Linked DNA regions of Homo sapiens. The protein of the gene in region 1 interacts with the protein of each later gene in a biochemical or structural test. Each region holds a gene or a part of one and is shown in the gene's direction. Other genes may lie near its edges.

Evidence for each region.
Region 2: the proteins of SMC3 (region 1) and MXD3 form a complex in vitro, tested with the Homo sapiens proteins (one study listed by BioGRID).
Region 3: the proteins of SMC3 (region 1) and KIFAP3 form a complex in vitro, tested with the Homo sapiens proteins (one study listed by BioGRID).
Region 4: the proteins of SMC3 (region 1) and FEZ1 form a complex in vitro, tested with the Homo sapiens proteins (one study listed by BioGRID).

The regions. Positions count from the first base shown.
Region 1 is NC_000010.11:110,577,686-110,584,719, forward strand, and holds part of SMC3 (structural maintenance of chromosomes protein 3), read left to right. Parts: intron 1-149; coding exon 150-229; intron 230-942; coding exon 943-1,021; intron 1,022-3,218; coding exon 3,219-3,336; intron 3,337-4,237; coding exon 4,238-4,413; intron 4,414-4,876; coding exon 4,877-4,957; intron 4,958-5,698; coding exon 5,699-5,863; intron 5,864-6,155; coding exon 6,156-6,277; intron 6,278-6,497; coding exon 6,498-6,711; intron 6,712-7,034. UniProt on the Homo sapiens protein: Central component of cohesin, a complex required for chromosome cohesion during the cell cycle. The cohesin complex may form a large proteinaceous ring within which sister chromatids can be trapped.
Region 2 is NC_000005.10:177,308,878-177,316,055, reverse strand, and holds the start of MXD3 (max dimerization protein 3), read left to right. Parts: upstream 1-4,157; 5' UTR 4,158-4,225; coding exon 4,226-4,295; intron 4,296-4,571; coding exon 4,572-4,677; intron 4,678-5,358; coding exon 5,359-5,388; intron 5,389-5,515; coding exon 5,516-5,630; intron 5,631-7,178. UniProt on the Homo sapiens protein: Transcriptional repressor. Binds with MAX to form a sequence-specific DNA-binding protein complex which recognizes the core sequence 5'-CAC[GA]TG-3'.
Region 3 is NC_000001.11:169,920,821-169,924,721, reverse strand, and holds the end of KIFAP3 (kinesin-associated protein 3), read left to right. Parts: intron 1-1,619; coding exon of another isoform or gene 1,620-1,656; intron 1,657-2,940; coding exon 2,941-3,046; 3' UTR 3,047-3,393; downstream 3,394-3,901. UniProt on the Homo sapiens protein: Involved in tethering the chromosomes to the spindle pole and in chromosome movement. Binds to the tail domain of the KIF3A/KIF3B heterodimer to form a heterotrimeric KIF3 complex and may regulate the membrane binding of this complex.
Region 4 is NC_000011.10:125,493,247-125,500,694, reverse strand, and holds the start of FEZ1 (fasciculation and elongation protein zeta-1), read left to right. Parts: upstream 1-4,429; 5' UTR 4,430-4,574; exon of another isoform or gene 4,575-4,859; intron 4,860-5,079; exon of another isoform or gene 5,080-5,481; intron 5,482-7,448. UniProt on the Homo sapiens protein: May be involved in axonal outgrowth as component of the network of molecules that regulate cellular morphology and axon guidance machinery.

The DNA.
Region 1 (7,034 bases):
AGAGTATTGAGTATTTGTAGTATTATTTTTAGTGAGATAATTGAAATTTTAAAATAAATACTTATGGGCAAGGACTTTAAAATGACCTTATTTAAAAAGTTTTCTCCTTTACTATTAAATTAACTGTGGGCTTTTACATTTTTTCTTAGATCGATAAAGAGGAAGTTTCACTTCGAAGAGTTATTGGTGCCAAAAAGGATCAGTATTTCTTAGACAAGAAGATGGTCACGTAAGCATTTTTCTTTTTTTTAAAAAAACTGAATATGTACTTAAATAGAGATGGGGTATTGCTGTGTTGGCCAGGTTGGTCTCGAACTCTTGGCCTCAAATGATCCACCTCGGCTTCCTAAAGTGCTAGGATTACAGACATGAGCCACCACGCCCAGCCAGCATTTTTCTTTTTCTCAATACGGAGTCTTGCTCTGTCGCCCAGGCTGGAGTGCAGTGGCGCAGTCTCGGCTCACTGCAACCTCCACCTCCCGGGTTCAAGCTATTCTGCTGCCTCAGCCTTCTGAGTAGCTGGGATTGCAGGCAGTCACCACCACACCCGGCTACTTTTTGTATTCTTAGTAGAGACGGGGTTTCACCATGTTGGCAGGCTGGTCTCGAACTCTTGACCTTGTGATCTGCCTGCCTTGGCCTCCCAAAGTGCTGGGATTAGAGGCATGAGCCACTGCGCCCAGCCCGCAATTTTATGATTTCCTTACAAAAGAGTAAAAAGTATTCTTTTACCTGCTTCATATATGAGGAATATTTGCTTCATCTTCAACAAGTCAACATATAGAGGATAAACATAAGAATCAGAAAGTTCTGAGGATGATACAGATGGTTTAATTACTGATCTTTCCTCCCTAATGCTATCAACCAAGGGGCTACTCTACTCATTGCTTAATGGTGCTTTAAAATTATTTATCGGAAAGTAATTTCATTGTTTGTCAACAGGAAAAATGATGTGATGAACCTCCTTGAAAGCGCTGGTTTTTCTCGAAGCAATCCTTATTATATTGTTAAACAAGGAAAGGTAAAACAATTGTATGTCCTTTTTAAGTAGAATTTGTTTTCTGAGTAATTCTTGAGTGATGAATTTGGTTTATTGATTTGAGTGGTTAAGCTGAAGCAAAAATGGCCATATTCTTTTACATGGCCATAAAGTACCAAATAGGTCCATTGCATGTTGAGATGGAAGTATTTCAGCATATTAAGTGGATCTTGTTTTCCTAGTGACTGGTATTACTTACTGAGGTGAAAGTATGGGAAGACATTATTGGCTTATGAATGTTGCAATAATTAAGAATATTGTAGGAATTCTATAAAAATCACATTTGAAAAACTTTCTAAAATTAATATTTTGTGTTACCTAATTATTTATCACAATTAAAATACTGAAAAGCTAACATTACCAGAAATCTGCCATTTTGCCACATGTTATTTTCCCTAATAGGGATTATGTTTTTACATTTTTTCAGCAGCCAAACTACAAACTTTTTTAGCTGATTGTTCTGCTCTCTTCTCATATACTTTCACTTTTTTTTTGGACTAGGGAAAATTCTCAAAGAATATTCACTTATTTTATACTGTAGGCCTTTTTTTCTAGATATGTATTGGAAAGTTAGCATTTAGAAGAAGTGATTAGGAAGAATATGGAGTTTCAGTTTTAGAAAATGTGTTACTGGAAGAACACGTTTTTTTCCGATTTAACTATTTGTGGGAGATAAATTTTTTTAAATGGAGGCTGATTTGAAAGAGCACTTTTCTGAGATCCGTCTGCTGTCAATCTAGGCCCTTTTACTTCATTTCAGTTTCTGCCCGTATGCCATCCTTGATTGCCTCATCTGAAAGCATTGCCGTCCCCTCAACCCTATGTGCTTTATTTCCTTAATCTGTTTTATTTTTCTTCATAACACTTACACTGTTAGGATAGTACTTATTTTCTGTCTTTTTCCATTAGAATGTAAGCTCCATGAGGGTGGGACCTTTTCTGCTTTGTTTGCTCTTTTCCAGTGCCCAGCAGTGGCACATATGTTGTAGCCATTTGAAAAATAATTTTTAAGTGAGGAAATTGCATGAACCAATATGTATAATTGGAGCGTTCAATAATGAGGATCTGAAGGATGATTCTTTGATGTAGATACTTTTGATAGACCTATTTTCGTAGAGATAATTTCAATTTTTTAATGCAGTGATATCATTTTTGACATTTAGGGATACTTGTTATATATTAAGTTGCATGGCACTTAAGTTGTACCATTCTCTCTATATTTAAAGCATACCATTTTTGTCATATCATTAGCCTTCTGTATCTGTAGGTTCCACATCTGCAAGTTCAGCCAACCATGGATCAAAAATATTTAAAATAAATAAAATTTTAAAACAGTACAATAAGAAATAATACAAATTTAAAAATACAGTAAAACTATTTACATAGCATTTACATTGTATTATTATAATTAATCTAGATATTAAAGTATATGGAAGGATGTGCATAGGTTATATGCAAATACTATGCCATTTTATATAAGGGACTTGAGCATCCTTGGATTTTGGTACCTGCAGGGGGTCCTAGAACCAATCCCCATGGAAACTGAGGAAGAATTGACTTTTAATATATTATTGTAGCTTTAAAAAAAAGTGTAGTCAGTGATGGTTTTCCCTTATAAAAATACTTTGTTTTTTGAGAATGGAGCTCATCTTTTATACCTTATCATATTGACTAAGAAAAAGATGGTGGTGTGAGATACTCCTTCACTTGTTAGCCCTATTCATAAAGGAGAGTTATGACCGTAACAGTTGTATTTGGATTTTATTTGGTAAATTTCATTTAAGTAAAGGAGACATAGATATGTAGGCATGCGTACTATACAAATGACATTAGCCAAATCATAATCTGTTTAAAACTTGGCATGTCCCAAATTCAAAAGTCTGAAATACAGAATGCTCTACAATCTGAAACCTTTCGAGTGTGGACATGACATTCAAAGGAAATGCTTGTTGGAACATTTTGGATTTCAAATTTTTGGATTTGGGTTGCTCATCTGGTAAGTATAAATGCAAATATTCCAAAACTTGAAAAAATCTAAAATCTGTAACACTTCTGGTTTCTAACCATTTTGCATAAGGGATACCCAACCTTCATGTGTATTAAAAACCTTTCAACGTGGAGTTCTTCTTCTTAAACGGAGGCTACAGCTATGTAATGATTATTTTTCTAAAAATTTTAGATCAACCAGATGGCAACAGCACCAGATTCTCAGAGATTAAAGCTATTAAGAGAAGTAGCTGGTACTAGAGTGTATGACGAACGAAAGGAAGAAAGCATCTCCTTAATGAAAGAAACAGGTAAAATAAATGTGATTCTGCCTTATTTTTTTGTTGCAAATTACTGTTTTTGTGACAGAGTGGCTCCATGATGGGAATATAGTAGGTGTTTAGTATATGACAGCATTAGATAATGCTGTTATTAATAAAAATTGAGAATCCATAACACCAATGATGTTAGTAGCTTTTAAAAATATTGTGGAAACGCACACTGACTTTTTTTTTTTTTTTTTTTGAGATGGAGTCTTGCTCTGTCACCCAGGCTGGAGTGCAGTGGCGCGATCTCTGCTTATTGCAACCTCTGCCTCCCGGGTTCAAGTGATTCTCCTGCCTCAGCCTCCCTGAGTAGCTGGGATTACAGGTGCCCACCACCATACTCAGTTAATTTTTGTATTTTTAGTAGAGACAGGGTTTCACCATGTTGTCCAGGCTGATCTCGAACTCCTGACTTCAGATGATCCACCTGCCTTGGCCTCTCAAAGTGCTGGGATTACTCATGAGCCACTGCGCCTGGCCGGCACACTGACTTTTTAAAAGGAAGCTTAAACTGAGGCCCTTACTACATGTTATAAAAGAACCAGTGTCACCATGTGTAAATTTGTTCTCTGGTGCTTTTCATAATAAAGGATCTTAACCCATTTATGCCTAGCATTCCATTATTGGAATCCTAAGCTTGTGGATGTTACTTATATTCTACTGCTCAAGGTCATTGCCAAGGTCTGATTTTTCACAGAAAAAAATTTGCAACCTCTGGCATAAATGGGTTAATTGCTATTTTAGTATTTTAAATTGGGTTACCACATCACATCAAAGAAATAATGCTACAGTTCTTAAAAATAATTTAATTCAAGGTATATTTAAGAAGTGATATTACATAAAAATCTTATTCAATTCTTCCACCTCTCTCCCCATTTCTTTTAAGAGGGCAAACGGGAAAAAATCAATGAGTTGTTAAAATACATTGAAGAGAGATTACATACTCTAGAGGAAGAAAAGGAAGAACTAGCTCAGTATCAGAAGTGGGATAAAATGAGACGAGCCCTGGAATATACCATTTACAATCAGGAACTTAACGAGACTCGTGCCAAACTTGATGAGGTAAAATATTTACCTGTGACACTTAAAATCAGATTAATTTTGTTTTTATGAATTTGTTAAACTCAGGCCATAATTACACTTTTCAGTGATTTTAAATAGAAACTTAAAAAAAACCTCTCAATGAATTTATTAGTCAGCAAGTTTTTTTAGTTCAAGGAAATTAGCCATGTGGTCCTTGCTATATAGTATTATCTGAAATATAATCAGATGGTGGTATTAGGCAGACAAGATGAGAGGAAAGCCATTTTGAAGGCTTCTTGTAGTTGTAGTATATCCTAAACTACACATTTTGTACAAAAATTTAGTGCTTCAGTTTTCTAGTTTAAAATCATTTTTAAAATTTTTGTAGAAAATTTGAGCAGTTACTTTTGGTTTATTTTAATAGAAAAATTTTTATTAGATGTTATGAAATATTTAGTAATTACAAAATGAGTTAGATATGATAAGTTGTTTTTTTTCTTAGCTTTCTGCTAAGCGAGAGACTAGTGGAGAAAAATCCAGACAATTAAGAGATGCTCAGCAGGATGCAAGAGATAAAATGGAGGTAAGATTATAAACAAGGTTCATGTTAACTTACTTTTTACTTTTGAGACAGGGTCTTGTTCTGTCATCCAGGCTGGAGTACAGTGGTGCCATCATGGCTCATTGTAGCCTTGACTTCCTGGGCTCAGGCAATCCTCTTGCCGCAGCTTCCTGAATAGCTGGAGCACAGGTGTGTACCACCACACCTGTCTAGTTTTTAAATATATTGTAGAGACAAGGTCTTACCATGTTGCCCAGGCTGGTCACAAACTCCTGGGCTCAAGTGGTCCTTCTGCCTCAGCCTCCTGAAGTTTTTTTTTTTTTTTTGGAAGACAGGGTCTCACTCCATTGCACAGGCTGGAGTGCAGTGGTGAGATCACAGCTCACTGCAGCCTTGATCTCTCAAGCTCAAGTGATCCTCCCACCTCAGCCTCCTATTTTTGTTATTTTTTGAAGAGATGGAATCTCAGTATGTTGCCCAGGCTGGTTTTGAACTCCTGGGTTCAAGGAGTCCTCCCACCTGGGCCTCCCAAAGTGCTGAGTTTACAGGCATGAGCAACCATGTCCAGCCATCGTATGTTTTTGACCATAGTAAACCCTTTTGTACCAGAATTATGGAATGATTACACAAGGGAGAGTTAGAGGAATTGAATATTGAAAGGACAGAGTATTACTAAACATTAAGTGAAAGAGAATTAATGGTGTCACAATTCTGCTATTGTACTTCTAATTGCCTTATTTTCTGTTTAATACTTTTGAATAGGATATCGAACGCCAAGTTAGAGAATTGAAAACAAAAATTTCAGCTATGAAAGAAGAAAAAGAACAGCTTAGTGCTGAAAGACAAGAGCAGATTAAGCAGAGGACTAAGTTGGAGCTTAAAGCCAAGGATTTACAAGATGAACTAGCAGGCAATAGTGAACAAAGGGTAAGTTAAAATGCTAAAAATGAAAGATGTGAATGTTCAGGTGAGTAGCAACTGTAGAAGACAGCCCTTTCTGTGACTGGTGTGTGTTGGAATTTTTTTTTAAGCTTTGCTACGTTAGCATAATTTGTACTCAAGTAACAACTTGGTACTGTCCCTTTGTTTCTTACATTAAAAAAGAGTTTCATGTTACAGGTGGGTTTTCTCATGAAGTTTTTTTCCTGAGAAAACATTTATGCTAGACCTAAATTATGCAAAAAATTTAAAGCAGTTTGCATTTTTACTTTGTTTACAGAAACGTTTATTAAAAGAGAGGCAGAAGCTGCTTGAAAAAATAGAAGAAAAGCAGAAAGAACTGGCAGAAACAGAACCCAAATTCAACAGTGTGAAAGAGAAAGAAGAACGAGGAATTGCTAGGTCTGAGAACTTTCACCAACACTTTAACTTTCTACATCATATTATGTAAAACTAGGTTGTCCGAGGAGCTCAATTATATAGTAGCTGCTTTTTACACTTAATTCTTTTTGTATCTTTTTGAAAAATGGCTTTATGTTTCTGTGTGCAGTTGACATTATTGGTTGCAATTAAACTTGGTTATTATTCTCCTTTTCATCCCATTTGCTTCTATTTTGTGTAGATTGGCTCAAGCTACCCAGGAAAGAACGGATCTTTATGCAAAGCAGGGTCGAGGAAGCCAGTTTACATCAAAAGAAGAAAGGGATAAGTGGATTAAAAAGGAACTCAAGTCTTTAGATCAGGCTATTAATGACAAGAAAAGACAGATTGCTGCTATACATAAGGATTTGGAAGACACTGAAGCAAATAAAGAGAAAAATCTGGAGCAGTATAATGTAAGAACTTCTATAGCTGCTTTGTAAAAATCTTTCAGAAGAGATAAATGTGTTTAGTTTTATCTACTTCAAGTTTTCTTTTTAAATAAGTCTACATGTTGCTCTTAAAATATATGACAGATACTTATTTAGAAAAGGCCTGCACAGTTTAATATACATATAGTTCTTTTTTAAAGAATATTCATGTCATTGAGCCTTTATGTAGATTAAGTATATTAAAATGTATGTATGTATTTTTAATTTTTTTGAGATAGGGTCTTGTTCTGTCACCCAATCTGGAGTGCAGTGGTACAAACACAACTCACTGCAGCCTCCACCTTCCA
Region 2 (7,178 bases), on another chromosome or scaffold:
GCGGTGGCTCAAGCCAGTAATCCCAACACTTTGGGAGACTGAGGGGGGCAAATCACCTGAGGTCAGGAGTTCAAGACCAGCTTGGCCAACATGGTGAAACCCCATCTCTACAAAAAATAAAAAAATTAGGCATGGTGGCATGCAGCTGTGGTCCCAGCTACTTGGGAGGCTGAGGCGGGAGAATTGCTTGAGCCCAGCAGGTCAAGGCTGCAATGAGCCCTCATTGTGTCACTGCACTCCAGCTGGGTGACAGCAGAAGACCCCACCTCAAAAAAAAAAAAAAAAAAAATGGCCATACTACTGAGCCTACAGAGGCCTGTTTGCAGTGTTCCTCCCCGGATAGCAGGGGCTGCCAGGCACTTCTGAGACCTGTCTAGCCAGGGCTGGCCTCTTGGCTTAGCCCCTGTGACACCAAGCGAGGGACCGGCTGGCACCCAACTCCTGATCATTATGCTGCACTGCCACAACAGCTGGGGTTGGCGGGGGGGGGGGGTGCGTTCCAGAGGTGGCCTCTGTGTGGGGGTCTGCTGACTGCTTCTTCTGACATCCTATGGGCATGGAGACACAGGCCCACCAGCCCTTCCCTACCCCTTGCCTATGGCTTGGCCAAGCCCCTGTTCGGCATTGGTTTGCTCTGTCGCTGAGGTCGTAGTCTGCAGGAAGAGGCTGACCCTGAGAGATGCAGGGCCCACTGCTACTTGGGAGAATGCGCTGAAGGAGGGAGGCCTGGGAACCTCCTGGAGCAAGTGACATTGAGCAGAGATGGCAGAGGCAGGGAGGTGGGCAAGGCCATGGCATGTCCCCTGCCCAGCTCAAACTTTGTCCTGAAGGCCATGGGAGCGTGGGCCTTCAGCGGGGGCATGAGGCCTTCAGTGGGGGCGTGACCTGGTTAGCTCTGTGACTGGGGAGTGCTGCTCTCTGGGAGAGGGGAGGCTGCGGGCAGCCCAGGGAGGAGGCTGGGCAGGGTTCCAGGGTCGGAGCCAGGCTCCCGACTCCCCCGATGACTCTTCCTTGCAGGGGAGAAGGGGAAAGGGATCTGGGGAACGCAGGGCCATCTCCTCCTGCACCATGGAGTGTCCATGGAGTGGAGGAGGACGGTGAGCCCAGGATTGGCTCCCCTCTTCAAGGGGTCCTAACTGGGACAAAGGCCTGGGGCGGGGGGGTCTCCCTTCTCCCCTTCCACTCAGGGCACAGATGCAGACTCTGTCCTTGGAGCCCAGAGGACCATAGACCCGGGTAGAGTCTGCACTGCAAGTACAGGCAGCAGAACCCCAGTTACAGTGGGCTGGTGGAGGCAGGAGGTCACAGGGCGAAGCGCAGGACCCTGCGGACTCCAGGGCAGAGGATCTGGGCTGGTCACTGCTGGGGGGGCACTGCAGCTCCTCTGTCCAGTCCTGTGCCTAGAGGCCACTAGCTCTAGCATTTTCTCACAGGGGCCCAGGGGACATCCAAGGGCTTGGGGCAGGATCCCTGCTGGTCCAGGCTGGATCCCCCCATGCCCCGTCCCATCCTGTTCCTGGGGAGGTATTGTTCCTGTCTGGCCTGGCCGGTGGCCTTGACCCCAGCCCACATGCTGTCCCTGGCTCAAAACCGCTCTGCAGCTCCTAGGATGAAGTCCAAACTCCTTGACATGAGCCCTCCAGCCCCTCTGCAGCCCCACCCCGACTCCCACCACCTCCTGGCCATGTCTTCAGCTCACATATGCTTCCTTCTTTCCCTTTGCTGAAAATTCTCCTCCTTCAGAACCTCCCCACCCCTATCCCACCCAGACTGGAGGCCAGGCCACCTAGGGCCCAGACATCTGAGTAGGTTCGTGTCTGCACTGCATGGTGCTGACTTTAGTGAAATAAAATTGGAAATTCATTCACAACCCTTGCGGCTCCTTCCTTCAGAGATGGCTGATTGCAGGGGGGAGTTTGGGGGAACCCATCAGCATGTTCTGGGCCCTGCAGCCTCTCCAGTGTCAGCCTGCACCAGGCTATTTGCTCTCTGTAAGCCACACCGCCCCTGCCATGCTCCTTTCAGCCCCAGGGCCTTTGCATGTGCTGTTCCTTTGTCTAGAATTCTTTCATCTCTCCTATACTTAGATAACACCTCTTCATCCATTTCCCCAGTAAAGCCTTCTCTGGCCTCACCAATTAGGTCAAATGTTCCTTAGAATGTGTTGTGGGGCATGGTCTCTCCCTGTGAGGACCTGTCCAGCTGGACCTCCGCCTTCCTGCGACTGTATTGGTGTCTTTCCCTCTCAAGCCTATGAGCTCTGCAAGGGCAGGGACCCTGTATGATTTTGCCTATCGTATGTCCTCCAGCCCCCAGCACAGCGCCTGGTGTCCAGTGAGAGCTCAGCAAATACTTTGTGAGTTAAGGACAGGCGGCTGGGTAGATGGATCGTCTGCCTAGACAGGGCAGTTATTCCGCTGTGAGCAACTCTTAGAGAAACTTCATTTTTTTTCGGCGCCTGGCCGAAACTTCAAGATGTTTCCCGGCCAGGAACGGTGGCTCACACCTGTAATCCCAGCACTTTGGGAGGCTGAGGTGGGTGGATCACCTGAGGTCAGGAGTTCGAGACCAGCCTGGCCAACACGGTGAAACCCCGTCTCTACTAAAAATACAAAAATTAGCTGGGTGTGGTGGTGGGCGCTTGTAGTCTCAGCTACTTGGGAGGCTGAGGCAGGAGAATTGCTTGAACCCGGGAGGCGGAGGTTGCAGTGAGTCGAGACTGAGCCATTGCGCTTCAGCCTGGGCAACAGAGCAAGACTCAAAAAAAAAAAAAAGATTTTTCCCAAGGAACTGAGGCCTGACTGACATGTGCTTGTGTTTACCAGGACTGTCTCTTTACAGAGCATCTATCCCTCCCACCTTCCCTCCCCTCTCTATTTTGGGATTACTGGAGTCACAGACTCAGCCCGTGGCTGGCAGCAATGCTCCACCCTGCTACAGCTGCGTTCATCTTCCTGTCCCCAGATGTGGCCCCACCTGCTGGTGCTGAGGCTAGAAGTCATCACAGCCACTCCTTCGGCCGGCTAGGAGAGTCAGGTGCAAGAAGGGTTTATGGACTCTGAGTAAGGCAAGCAGGGGCTGCCTGGGAGGCAAACGCCGCGGTCTGGTTGCACTGGCCTTTGAGATGGGCGGCTCCTTCATGCCATGGGCACCGCAGAGGCATTGGCTCTGATCCTTCAACGCTGTCGCAGGGCTCCTGAGGCTTAGAGACGGAGGTCACCTCCTGAGTCATACACAGCTGAGACATCAGTGACAGGAGAGGACCCCAACTGCGTGGATACCAGAGCCCAAGGCCCCGGAAAAGGCCATTTCGCGTGCCTCCAGGGTATGGCCTGCCTGAGGAAGCTGTTACCCCACTGACGTTTTCGTAGCAACAACAGCTTCCTCACAGAAGAGGAGGGGGGCCGAGATATTATTCCCATTCGACACAGTAGGAAGCTGGGGCCCACGGGGGCCTTCGGGGGCAGATGGCAGGCAGGCTTGGGGACAGACCCCGGAGGGCAGGAGCCGGGTCCGCCGCCCCTCCGCCGGCGCCTGCGCATTGAGGCCCAGCTCCCCTCTCAACCCCGCCCCATCGCTTGGGTTTTCAAATTTGAAACCTGCTTCTTTTCCCGCCCGAACGTGTGGATCAGCGGCGGGAGAGGGCGGGGCAGAGCGCCAGCCAATAGGGCATCAGAGGCTCCCCGACCCCGCCCCGAGGATGACAACAGCGATCCTTGAGAAGCCATGTGCGAATGGGCGAGCGGCGGCCGGAGGCCCCGCCCCCGCGGCACCCACGTGCAGCGGCTGGGCCCGGCGCTTTCAGGGGACCACCAGGCCCCCAGAGCGCCGTGCTATGTTGGGGGCTAGTCACTAGCACGGGGCTGGAAGCTGAGATCAAAGACGCCAATGAGCCGGCGTGGGTGGATGAGTGAGGCGGGCAAGAAGCAGCACCGGTTAGCCTGAGGGTTCGCTCCAGGGCCAGGCCTGGAGCCAGCGCCCTTACCTGCCCCTGGAAAGTCTGAGACCACTCGGGGCGGGGCGGCTGCCGGAGGGTGGGCTGCGGCTCCGTGGCGGGTTCCAGAGGGGCGGAGCCAAGGGCTGGGCGTTCCCGCGGGCGGGGCGTCCCGGGGGCGGGGCGGGCCCCTGTGTTTGTTGCACCGTGTCAGTTACTTTGTAACAAAAGTGCTGCAGCCGCTTGCTCCGGCCGGCACCCTAGGCCGGCCCGCCGCCAGCTGTCGCCGACATGGAACCCTTGGCCAGCAACATCCAGGTCCTGCTGCAGGCGGCCGAGTTCCTGGAGCGCCGTGAGAGAGGTGAGGAAGGACCCTTGGCTGAATTCCGGGCGGCGACCTCGCTGACACGGGCCTGGACTGGACCTGGCTCCCAGCTTGAAGGATGCACCGCCCTAGGACAGTAATCCCGGGGCGCCTCGCCCTCAACTCGAGAGGAGTCCCGGGGCGGTAGAGCAGGGACGGGTGGGGGAAATGGTCCTGGCGCCAAAAGCCTTTCCTTGACCGTGCTGTGCCTGGGGCTGCCGCTGGGACCAGGTCCAGCCCCAGCCTGACGCGGGCGGGGACTCTCTCTGGCAGAGGCCGAGCATGGTTATGCGTCCCTGTGCCCGCATCGCAGTCCAGGCCCCATCCACAGGAGGAAGAAGCGACCCCCCCAGGCTCCTGGCGCGCAGGACAGCGGGCGGTGAGGAGGCCGGGGGCGGCGGGAGTGGGGGTGGGGGTGGGCGCCGCCCCTGGTCGGGCCCTCCTCTGCCCACTTGTTGCTTGCATCTTTTGGGCCAGGTGTCCCGCTCCAGGAAGCGTTCAGACCCCTCCTGCCATCTCCCCACTCTCCAAACACACTCACACCTTTCTATTCATTCAAGGACTATTTCTTGAGCACCTCTAGATGTGCCGGGAACTGCCAACAGCAGTTGGGGTCCCGCTTCCACTCGCACTCCCGCACCCCACACATCAGGCCACTCACCTCCCCCGCTGGCTTCCTCCTCTTCTCTCCTCTCCCCAGCCCTTTGCATATGCTGTTCCCTCCTATTTGAATGCCCCTCCCTCCAGTACCGGCTTGGGAAACATCTGTTTCCGCAGTTAGCTGTCACCTCTGGGAGGTCCTTTCTGGCCAGCTGGCAGGCGCCCTTGTTAGGGCCCTCATACCCACCTGGGCAGGCTTCTGTTAAGCATTTGGCTCCGTGTGTCTTTGACTCCCCTCGCCCTGCCAGGGGACTCTGGTGTCTGAGGCCAGCATGAGCTCTCCACAGGGGACTTGTTTGGGGCAGACATCTGTAGTGGCTCTTGAGCCACTGGGGGCCCTGGGATTGGGGCATGGGCAGTAGCTGATTCCCCTTCACCTCATCCTCTCTGGCATTGGCAGGTCAGTGCACAATGAACTGGAGAAGCGCAGGTGAGTCCCAGTCCTGCCCTGACAGCGCCAGCCCCCAGGGGCCACTGCCCTCTGGCCTTCCCTCCCCTGCCATTCCTGTGGCCGGCAAGGTGGGGCTGGCACTGCCCTCCAGACCTCTTCCCCACAGGAGGGCCCAGTTGAAGCGGTGCCTGGAGCGGCTGAAGCAGCAGATGCCCCTGGGGGCCGACTGTGCCCGGTACACCACGCTGAGCCTGCTGCGCCGTGCCAGGATGCACATCCAGGTGAGGCCCCCCACTGCGCCCGGACTGGCTTGCCCTGGTGTATGGAGGGCTGTGCTATGGAGGGGCTGGTGGGACTGGGGAACGAGACCTGAGGTCAGAGCTCAAGAACTGTGTGACTTAGGACAGCTCTCTGAGCTTTTACTTTCCAGATCCATTAAATGGGAAGAAAAGCAGACAATAACTCAGAGGGTTGTTGAGGCTTAAATGAGTTCACTCTATAAATGTTCACTGTTGCTGTTACAGCTGTTATCACTTAGATCACAGCTGTGAGACCTTGGGCAGGTTACTTAGCCTGTCTGGACTAACCTTCCCTCCTGTTTGAGGGGAGGGGATGGCTGTTGAATTCTGTGATGGGATGTATGTGGGGGTCCTTGGGACTGTAGAGGGTTGGTCCTTGCTCTCCCCCTCTCACCTTCAAGGCCTCCTGTTATGGGCAGTCTATCCTGGTGCCACCTGGGAGGCAGCTCCAGGGACAGGAGGGGAAAGGACTGAGAAGACGCCAGTCACTGGTCCTCCCAGGGCTCCTGCTGCTGCTGGGGCTGAGCTCAGTGCCCCCTGGTGGACAGGAGTGGATGTGCTGAATAAAGGCCCAGGTGGCCCTGGCCATGTCAGAAGTGGCCTTGGAAACCACAGGACTTTTCCTGCCCTCTAGAGGAATACATGAAGGCACAGCTAGGCTGAGGGCCAACAAGTTGCACAGCTGATGGGCGGCAGATTCAGGACCCATGCCCAGTTCCCTGGCTTGCGTTATCTCCTCTGACAAGTGTTTACTGAGCACTGGTTCTGCTAGGCCCTATTCTAGGCACTGGGGGCTGTGGCACACAAAGACCTATGCGCTGTTAGTAAATAAACCACAGCTGCGGGAACAGCTGCACTGCCGCCCGGCGTCTGTTATTACCATCATTGTGGCTGAGTAACACTCTGGTTGGGTAGTGGCCCAGTTTCTCACACGGAGCTTGCCTGGCCTGGTTCTCGGATGGATGATGTGTGCCCCTCAGGGGCTGGCTGGCCTGTGGGCAGGACCTGGGCAGTGCTCCTTCTCTGGGGCTCCATCACCCCTCTCCTGGATTAATTCACCGGCCTCCTCCCAGCCTTCCTGTTACCTGTTTTGCCTCCACCAGGCTGTCTTCTACTTTGCTCTAGAATGATCTCTGCAGCACACCTATCTACCCAGGCCCATCTCCTGCTGAAAACCCACCAGTGGCCCCTGACAGGACAAAGCCTCTGCTCCCCTTCCTTCCTGTGAAACTCAAGGCCCTTCATAACCCAGGACTTGCCAGTAGGCTGCTCTTTTGGCCTCATCTCTCCCTGTGCCCCACAGAAGCTGAATGCTCTGTGCTCTTCCCAGGCTCCCTCTGCTGTGTCTTGACGTTTCTTCCTCCCTGTGTTTGCCTCGGCAGCTCTTATCTTTCTACGCCCAGTCCAAACGCCTCCATGGCCCAGTTCTCCCCTTCTTGTTGAATGACCGAATGTAAGCTTCTGCCCACTGAGGGCTCCGCCTGGGAGAGCCCTTGGCCTTCCAGTCCTTGGAACTTCAGGGCTGGCAGA
Region 3 (3,901 bases), on another chromosome or scaffold:
AAAGTAAAGTGTCTACATATTCCAAAAGAATGTCTCCAGGTTTTAGCATCCTAGAAAGCCTGATTTCCCCCACTATATTAGAAAGAAGCAAATGAGAGTTTAAAGAAACAAACTGTTATGTTTCACAGTGAATTTAATTAAAAATGTATGTAGATATAGTTGATTTTTCATAATACAAAAGGACCTAGGACCTATGTCAAAGTACTCTCCAAACTGATCATAAATGTTTTAAATATTTTTTGCTTTAAACAGCAAGTTCATCTGTGATACATAATGGAGAATTCCAGAAAAGATCATTTTAGAGTTTGGTTTCAAATTTTATTCCTTTTTTCCAAAACGATATTTGTATATAGAAATTCGAAAAATTAAATGATATCCTCTACACTGTAATACACACAGATGTCTCTGGGTGAACTGCTGACTACATAAATAGATCTTTACCATAGTAACCTAAAGACCATACTGTTCAAGACCAGAGATTTACAGGTTCAGAAACTCAGACTCATCAGTGCTCAAGGGCCAGTCTTTCACTGACTTGGGACTGCAGGTTTTTATCAACAATGTGCATGACATATTTTAAAAAGAAAAATCCATTTGTTAATGTACAATGAAAGTTATAACCATCAGGTGGATTAGGTAATATCTAAGTTTATTATTTAACCTGTTGGCAAATTACATGGGAAATTACAGTGATCAATAGTTTGCCTATTAGTCGTAGAAATAAAAAAAAGGGGGAGAATTTTGCAACTTGAATGTAGAATGGCCTCAGACTCTGAGAATGTTAAATTCCCTTCCTGATTGAGGACCAAACTGCAAAAAGGCCAGATATTCCTTATGGTGTTATAGCTTACCAGATCACCACGCAATTGCCTAGGTTGCTACAACCAGCGTTGTAGCTGAGACGCTCCTTGTTCTGTGCCAATGACTGGTGAACTCCCTTCTGAGGACCATCTTCTTTTAGGTAGAATTACAGTGATATTGCTAACAAGTCGTCTGTGAGATACTCTGAAGGTGCCTTTGCATGTTTCCTCACTGTCCCACATATGCCTCTTGTTTTCATATTACTGAAATAGATCTTGCCATAGCCCCTAGATTGAGAAACAAGCATAAGATTAACTTGAGTTTAACCTAAGTCTACTGCTATTTGGCCTCAGAGGAGTTGCTAAAAAAGATAAGGACTGGTTGAAGACAGGTAATAAGCAAAAGATGAAGAAGGAACAAGTTGAAATCCAAGCTATGTAATCAACAGTTATATAATTGAGAGTTCTTTAGATACATGATTACTTGTTAGCCTTAGTGCTTGCAGAGAACAGTTTTCAATAACTTCTCTAATTTTAAGCTGATACCAGTGTCTCTTAGTTCACTGATTCCACTAATTTCTGAAGCATCTTTTAAGCTACCTCTTGATTTCCTCATCACAAAATTTAGTCTCTCTTCCCATGAGATCAAAGTTAGAAAAAGTGCCTATATTTTTACCATTTCAAAATAAAATGTAGACTTAAAAATTTCAACCAACTTTGAGAAACTATAGACAGAGTTTTTATATAGAAGGACCCCAAAACAACAAATTTTGTCCAGAATCGCTCAGTACAAATGCTAACCTGAAACTTGTATTTCAGAACTTCCATTCTCCTAAAGGGCAGAGTCACTGGACCAGTATGTGTTATATGTATTTTGGCTCTTTACATTTACTCTTTAGTTCCATCTTAATACACACAAGCACGCGTGCACACAAACACACACACGCATTCACACATTTATTTAAAACCTTAACATTTTAATAGTTACTTCTAAAGTGTGTCAACTTAATCTCACTCTGAGTGTGACAGGGAGTTAGTGCCTATGTGAATATATTTTTTCATCACATTCAGTTTTTGCTATTGAGGGAAAATTATCTTTCCATCTCATGTAGTGCAAACTTAAATCTTAAATCATTTAAATATGTTTTATTTTTCCAAAGCTTACATTTCTGCATTACAAATGGTGTCCATTGATTGGAAGTCAAGCTCACTAGCATTCACTGCATGAGCTATGCATGAGCATGTTAAGGCCACCATGTTCTGCCTGGCAAAATAAATACTTTATCATTTTCCTAAGTGTTGGATAATTCCCTGACCTTTAAAAAGGACTTTGGAGAACAGATTTTCCTCTAAATAATGTATTAATAGACCAACAAGTAATTTTTTTAAAATAATAATCATGAAGTTTAACATACTTCAAGCTATCTTTACAACTCTGAAGGTTATCTTTGGGTTTCTGTTATTCCCATAGAATAAGTTGAACCAAAATTTGTAATTGTCTTGCTGTCACTCAAAAGAAATAGATATGTTTTGTAATTGTTTGCATTGAGGAATCAGAGGAAGGATTTGCAGATCAAATCTGACTAATTTTCAAATTTTGTCAAATTCCTTATCTTGTTCTTTTAATCATAGGCTTATGGTATGATTTGGCCCTGCATGAGAGTTCACTGATATAACTCAAACACATGTTTTTACTAAAAGTGGAATTAGTCCTGTATCTTCATATGAAAAGACATTATAAACAGCAAAACTCACTTTACTACAGTTTTATTTTTATCATTCCCTAGCAATATATTACTGATCATTGCTAGCATGTAAAATCTTTTCATATTTTTGCTTAAGAGCCATATATAAGTAATTTATTAAATAAAACTTTTCTGATTTGATTCTTCCACTTTGTTTCAAATAGTACCTACTGACAGAGGTTTCCCATACTTTTAACACACATTGTTAGAAGTATTTTATTATATACACTTTTAATGGCTCTATTAACCTTAAAAAAAAAAGTTAATGATATCCACCTAAATCACTATCCCTGCTAGGAAGAGAATCTTGGTGGTATAAAAATGTAGGCCTCTTAATCTGCATTGTGGATGTGTGATGAAAAACATAGCTTATCATTCTTTTTTTTCTTTTTTAGCCTTGGAATGGATGGCTTTGGCCAACCAGTTGGCATTCTTGGACGCCCTGCCACAGCATATGGATTCCGCCCTGATGAACCTTACTACTATGGCTATGGATCTTGATAAAGTATCTGTTTCCATGTGTAATCTCAGCTTAGAAGAAATCTGTGTGGGTTGGGTTAATTTTGGATCTTTGCCTAATAATGCATGTTGATGTTATTGTGGGTCTGTGTTTGTTTTTATTTTTATATGTTGTTAGCTGCAGATTAACCCCAGCCCCTCTGTCTTCTGTTAAGTACAGTTGATACTGACATTGTTCACTCATCAAACCACATCTTGATGCTAAGTAACATTTCCCATGAGCCACAAAACTGAATGCTGAAAAGCTACTAGACTGGAAAACAAACACTGCATTATGTATGTTAAGTGACTAATTTAATTTCAATTAAAAAGCGTAAAGTGAAAATGAATAAGTGAAAGTCATGTGTTTATATTTCACACATTTCACTACGAATTACATGTTAATATAGGGTGCGCGTGAATTTTATTTTTTCTCCTTTTTTTCTGCTTGTAAACTCTTGAGTAATTTGTATAATATATGCTACCTTTAAAATTTATAAAAAGAACATCACCTTCATATTCCATGCCATGTGCCTGAAAGTTTCCTTCCCAAAGTTTATTAACTATGAGTTTTCAATTAATAATGGAACATATGTCATAAGTTATTTATGGTTATAGTCTCTTTGGTGGTTTTAATTCATATCTTCCTAGTTGTAATATAGAAATCCTAGGACAAGTAGTATACAAGACAAGCAGTGATACAAGATTAGCATTTGGCTTTTAACTTTTATTCTTCATAAATTTAGTATCTAAAGCATGGGAAAGCTAATTAAAAGTCGCATTAAGGAAAACTAAGGAACAGAATATTTCACTCACTTGGGTACCCAGTTCCCAATTGTTCACTTGTTCTTATAACGT
Region 4 (7,448 bases), on another chromosome or scaffold:
TGTTCAGTTTCTAACAACAGTTCCTCATTTCCATCTTAGACCTTACCAGAATCACCTTTAACATTCATATTCCTATTTGTTATAATAATATATGTATTCTCTATGACCGTAGAAACTTTCTCTACAGTCTCCTCATTTCTGAAGCCTCACTAGAATTGCCCTTAATATTCATAATTATACCAACAGTCTCTTTGGGGCAATATAGGCTTTTTCTGTCATGTGTCTCAAACTTCTTCCAGCCTCTTTGCATTACGATGTTCCAAAGGCACTTCCACATTTTTAAATATTTGTTACAGCAGCATCCCACTTTCTACTACCAAAATTTGTACTAGTTTCCTAGGCCTGCCACGACAAATGATCTTTAAATAGAAATTTATGGTTTCATGGTTCTAGAGGCTGGAAGTCCAAAATCAAGCTGTCAGCAGGGCCATGCTACCTACTGAAGGTCCTGGGGAAGAATCTTTTCTTGCCTCATTCTAGCTTTGGGTGGTTCCTGGCAATCCTTGGTGTCATTTGGCTTGTACCTGAATTACTCCAATCTCTGCCTCCTTTCCTATGCATGCTCTCCTCTTGTATTTTTTGTTTTTGTTTTTGACATAGTCTTGCTTTGTCACCTGGGCTGGAGTACAGTGGCATGATCTCAGCTCACTGCAACCTGCGCCTCCCCGGTTCTAGCGATTCTCCTTCCTCAGCCTCCCAGGTAGCTGGGATTATAGGTATGTGACACCACACCCTGCTAATTTTTTTTTTTTTTTAATTTTTAGTAGAGATGGGGTTTCGCCATGTTGTCCAGGCTGGTCTCGAACTCCTGACCACAGTTGATCTACTCACCTCCCAAAGTGCTAGGATTACAGGTGTGAGCCACCATGCCCAGCCTCCTCTCCTCTTCTTATAAGGACACCAGTCATTGGATTTAGGGCCTACCCGAATCTAGTATGACCTCATCATAACTGATTACATCTGTAAAAGTCACATTCTGAGGTTCTGAGTAGACACAAATTTTAGGAAAATACCATTCAATCCACTGCAGGTTCTAAGCAGCAGAGTTTGGAAATCAACATACTAAACATGGAACCTCTTGAAAGCATGCCTTCATTTTTAGCTCCCCAGCTTCTAGCCTAGGTCATGGAATGCAACCAATGCTTGCTGGAATTTGTACACCGATGTTGACAGCAGCATTATTTTTTTATTCTTTCTTTCTCACTCTAATCCCATGACAGATTAGTAGCATTATTCACAATAGCCAAAAGGTGGAAACAATCCAAATGTCCATGGGCAGATGAATAGATAAACAAAATGTAGTATATACATACCATGGAATATTATTTACCTTAAAAAGAAAAGAAATTCTGACATTGTTGCAACATAGATTAACCTTGAAAACATTGTGCTAAGTGAAATAAGTCAGATACAAAAAACAAATATTGTATAATTACACTTACATGAGGTACTTAGAATAGTCAAATTCTTAGAGACAAAATTAGAATAGTGGTTACCAGGGGCTGGGGAAGGGAGTACTGGGGAGTTAGTGTTTAATGGATACAGAGTTTCTGTTTGGATAACAAAATTTCTGTAGATGAATAGTGGTGGTGGTTACACAGCAATGTGAATGTGTTTAATACCAGTGAATTGTACACTTAAAAATGGTTAAAATAGTAATTTTTATGTTATATATATCTTACTACAATAAAATAAGTGTTTGCTGGAAGAATAACTGGGCTCATGTTCAGGGATTTCTCATCCTAGGTACCTAGCCTAGGCTACTTGTCCTCAGCTTTCAGTTTCTTCATAGCCTCACAAAAATAACCACAGAATCCACTAATTGGTTTCTTATTATATGCCAGGCACTGTGCTAAGCATTTTGCATGCATTATATTACTTAATATGCATAACAACAACCTTGTAGTAGATATTGGCATCCAACAGCAGATATTGGCATCTCCATTTTACAGATGAGAAAACTGAGGTACAGAGAGGATAACTAACAAGGTCACCAGCTGAAGACCAAGTTCTTTATCACTTTCAGTACTTCACAAGCTTCTCTCAAATCTGTTTGTCCCATGCTCTGAAGATCTAGACAAAAGATGGCCTCAAATTAGCCAAGACATATATATATATACATATATATACACATATATATATACACACACACACATATATATACACACACACATATATATATACACACACACATATATAGGACATCTATATGAGACATATATATGGGACATCTATATGAGACATACATGTGGGACATCTATATGAGACATACATGTGGGACATCTATATGAGACATACATGTGGGACATCTATATGAGACATACATGTGGGACATCTATATGAGACATACATGTGGGACATCTATATGAGACATACATGTGGGACATCTATATGAGACATACATGTGGGACATCTATATGAGACATATATGTGGGACATCTATATGAGACATATATGTGGGACATCTATATGAGACATATATGGGACATCTATATGAGACATATATATGGGACATCTATATGAGACGTATATATGGGACATCTATATGAGACATATATATGACATATATATGTGTGTGTGTATATATATACACACATACATACATATAGTGCCTTCTAATAAACCTGGAAGTACTTTACTCATATTCACTCCTTTAATCCCACAACAGGCCACAATAGAGTGGGGCACTATTATTTTCTTTCTTTTTTTTTTTTTTGAGTCGGAGTCTCGCTCTGTCACCCAGGCTGGAGTGCAGTGGCGCAATCTCGGCTCACTCCAAGCTCCGCCTCCTGGGTGCACGCCATTCTCAGCCTCCCGAGTAATTGGGACTACAGGCGCCCGCCACCACGCACAGCTGATTTTTTGTATTTTTGGTGGAGATGGGGTTTCACCGTGTTAGCCAGGATGGTCTCGATCTCCTGACCTCGTGATCCGCCCGCCTCGGCCTCCCAAAGTGCTGGGATTACAGGCGTGAGCCACCGCGCCCGGCGGGCACTATTATTTTCTTCATTTTACAGATGAGGAAATGAGCCACAGGGAAGTTAACTAACCCAAGGTCACAAAACTGGGCATGATCCCAAGAAAGGAGATCTAGGGATCTTTTAACCAGCTACTCTTTGTGATTTATTTATTTATTTATTTACTTTTGAGACAAGGTCTTGCTGTCGCCCAGGCTGGAGTGCAGCTTCAACCTCTTGGGCTCAAGCGATCCTCCCACCTCATCCTCCAGTGTAGCTGGGGCTACCAGGATGGGCTACCAGGATGGGCCCACCATGCCTGGCTAATTTTTTTTTTTTTATAGAGATGGGGTCTCACTATGTTGCCTAGGCTGGTCTTGAACTCCTGGCCTCAAGTGATCCTCCTGCCTCAGCTTTCCAACATGTTGGGATTATAGGTGTGAGCCACCGTGCCTGGCCTTATGATTTCTTACAGGAAGACATCCTCTGTCTATTGCTCCCACAAAGGCAAATAGGCCAACGCTTCTTCTCATCTCATTGGGACATTATTCCTGTTTCCATCCTTCTCATGGTTGAAATGTCTGTGGAATGAATGCATAAACGAGCAAAAGAGACGCTCCCTGCCCCTTCCAGTTGAAGTCCTCAGTTCAGCCCAGAGGTACTTTGCCATCAGACAAAAGTACTTGGGGTTCTCCAAGCCGACATGCTTTTTCCAGTGCCTTCCTTCGATAATTACAGTTCTTGTGCTCTTAGTTGTGTGTATTCGTGAATTATTAGATTTTTTATTGACAACTTCTATAAGCACAGGCCTATGCACAGTAGACAAGATAAATTAATAATTTTTCACAAGACTCCAGGGACCCTTCTCATTTCAGCCTCTTGAATTTTCCTGTATTATCTCAAGTCCTCCTGGGCCTGAAACCTTCTCACTCAGATTTTTCAGCTGGATCCAGCTCCCACCCAGCATCTTTGGGCGAGAAAAGCTCTCCTGCCGGCCTCCTCATTTTTGGCTTGAGGTCCGAACCCAGTTGGAGCTGGGAGACGTCGCTGGGCCTGCCCGCCTCAGCCTCCAGTAGAGGAGAATGGGAAACTCGGAAAGTCCAAAAGGGTCTTTGAGTGTGTCTGCCGGCATCCGCCAGCAGCCATCGCCTGCATTTTATCCAGAAACTAGTGTCAGGCTTTGCGAGGTATCCATATTGGTAGTTATTGCACGCTTTCATCTTGGAGTTTCTGAATATTCATGAGGGAAGCAGAAAGGCCAATGTTAAAGAGGAGAGAAACAGAAATGCATAAATATTAATAAAGGCAAGCCCACGTGCTCGGAGGAAGGCTATGAATGTTAACGAGGGGATGACGTCCAGCTCCCGCGCGTGCCAGTTGGGTGGGTGCCCGAGCGCGGGCGCGCCCCCGGAGCCCGGGCACGAGCGCGGGGAAGGGGTGGGGTGGAGGCGGGAGCGGAGCCGGGCGCCGCCGGAGCTGCGCGGGGAGCGCTCGCTGGCTGGCTGGCTGGCTGGCTCTCCGCTGCGCTGCGCTGCGCTCCGGCCGCTCCCGCGGCCCGTGGATGGGGGTGTCCGGCTGAGCCCCGGGATCCGCCTCCCTCCGCCAGGACCCGCACAGGTGCCGTCGCGGGGGTTGACTTTAGTTAGGACCCGACTCACTGCTGGGGGTGGGGTCTGGTGGGGGTGGTAAGGAGGCCCCGGGATTCTCTGACAGGACGGTCTGGGGTCGCCGCAGCTCCCCTCACCTGGTCCCATTCTGGGATTAGAAAGGAACAACGGGAGGCCGTCGCCTTCCTGCCCAGCCCTTCAGGGAGCGCAGCTGGGACGCCGCGCCAGGCCCTGGAGATGTGGGATGATGGGCACTTCCAGTATCATCTCAGCATCGGCCCTCCAGCCAGGCCTGGTGTGTGTGTGTGTGTGTGTGTGTGTGTGTGTGTGTCCGCGTGTGTGTGCCCGCGTGTGTGCGCGCGTGTGAAGGCAGGGCGGCGAGGTATGGGGGCTGGGGGAAGAAGGGAACGCCGCCCGATCGCGCTGGGGCAGTGGGTCGGTACCTCGTCCCGGGACCGTTATCTGGTCCAGTCACCGTAAACGCCCCAAGATCATCTTTGTCCCTAAAAACTTACCCCCGACCCCGCTCGTGCCCCTCCCCAGAGTGCGGAGCCTTCCCCAGACCGCGCATTCCTGCAGTGTCAGAACCGCTGGCAGCGGCCGCAGACGCCGGGAGAGCGATTGTTTTACTACAGACGGGCGGGAGAAGGGACCGGGGCGGCTGCGCGGTGGCGGGGCGCGCTGCCGTCGGGTGGGCCCCGGGCTCTGGAATGCGGGGAGCAGTGTTTGACGGCGTCGAGGAGGTATCACAGCCCGCTCTTCTTCCCTTTTGCCTATCCCTTCTCTCCTCGCCGCTAGGCATCCCCGACTCTCATCCCTCTCCCGTGTCCGGGCTTGTTTGGCCGGAAGGGCAGTGGAGTGTGTATGCGGCCTGCACGGGATGAGTCCGGCTTCCTCAGAGTGCCAGCCATTGTGCTGCCTGGAGGAGGCTTTCTTTACCCCACCGGACTGGGGGGAGGAGGGGGATCTGAGATGGAGGTGAATGGAGCAGCGGGAGGAGGGGGAGGGGAGCAAGCAGAACCGCGAAGGGGTTGCTGATCCATATGCAACGAAATACTTTTTCTGTCAAAATGTGCACAAACATGCACACTGGGTGGGTTCTGCGGAGGAGCAGTGGGAAATCTGAAGGTGGATCAGTGCAGGGTAGGTTTTAGGGACGGATATGGGGGACGAGGCACGGAATCAGTTGATCTATGGACCAAGTGATGGGAAGAAGGAGATGGAATGGGGCTTGTGTGGAGGTGCCGAGGCCCAGCGGGGTTAGCGTGGTGAAATCTCCACCGCTCCGCTCCACTCGGGTCAGCTCAGCAAAGCAGGGACTGAGCATTTGTACCGCAGCCCCGAGATGCAGCGAGTGCATCATTGTGCTGCAGGGAGACGTTTATGCGTTTCCTACTGGGTCTCTGTTAAGCCCCGTGAGTGTCTTTTCTTTTCCAAATTACACCATCTATTGGGAGTGAAAATAAATGGAATAGATTGTAGGACAATCAGACTATAGTCCTGCGCTCTGTTCTGTGGTAAAGAGAAAAAGAAAAGGCGACCCTCCCATGGTTCCTTCTTTCTGCCATTTTCATGTATGTACGTATTTATTTTTGATCTTGGAAGTCTAAAGGGAATAAGCTATCGCTTGTATTAATCCTACTTTAAGGAAAAGAAGGCTCCCAGATGAGCTATGAATGAGGATGGTGCAAGCTTGCCAGGATGGAAAATAAGGTTGTTTCAGACATTTTAGTTGAAGGATGAAAGCACTCCGTGAAGAGAGGAGGGCGAAAGAAAGTGGGCTAAAGGAAGGAAGGCAGGGTCACCATCTAAGGAAGTGCTGCCAACCCCAATCCACAGAGCCCTCCTGGAGGCTATAGTGGGGCCAGTCAGAACGCCTGACTCTCATCTGTGCCACAGCCTGAGGTCTTTCCACAAATGCTGGATTCAGTTTGGGTGTTGAGTGACTAGTTTCCCAGCACTGGCTTTCACTTTAACTTCATCTCCAGATGGTCATTCATGCAGCACTTCTTGGCTCTTGGATAATGAGTTGACAAAAAACAATCAGTCTATATTATGGACTGTTTCAAATGAGCATGTGTCTGAACCCTAGAGCTGTGATATTCATTTCGTCTTTTATAATTTTCTAGATGAATCCATTTTCTCTACACTCTGCCTGGGCAGAGTGCTTTCAGCACACTCTTCCTGTTGCCAACACTCAAAACTCAGTCTTAGTCCTAGATTCTGGTTGGATTGGCCTCTTGTTGCTGGTTAATCATATAGACTGTGTCATTTCAAATCAGAAACCCCACTGGTGTCACCATCTGCTTCTCCCCTGTCATTCCCAGAGAAAAGTACAAATTTAAAGGCAGTGTAAATACCTGCAACACTATCGGATTGGCTTTCATATCTCTGTAAAATGGAACCCACGATCCAGGAACCTTTGAACAAATAAATTGAAAAAAGAAGCCTTAGTAAAAAAGATGCTAAAATTCTTTCAGCAATAGTTCTCTTGTTTGATAAGCATATTGAAGCATTGCACAGAGAATATCATGGCAGGGATAATTTTTCTTTTACTTGAAGCACTCCCACATCACCTTTCTTTCTTTCTTTCTTTCTTTCTTTCTTTCTTTCTTTCTTTCTCTCTTTCTTTCTTTCTTTCCTTCTTTCCTTCTTTCCTTCTTTCCTTCTTTCCTTCTTTCCTTCTTTCCTTCTTTCCTTCTTTCCTTCTTTCTTTCTTTCTTTCTTTCTTTCTTTCTTTCTTTCTTTCTTTCTTTCTTTCTTTCTTTTCTCTCTTTCTTTCTTTCTTTCTTTCTTGAGATGGAGTTTCGCTCTTGTTGCCCAGGCTGGAGTGCAATGGCATGATCTCGGCTCACTGCAACCTCTGCCTCTTGGGCTCAAGCGA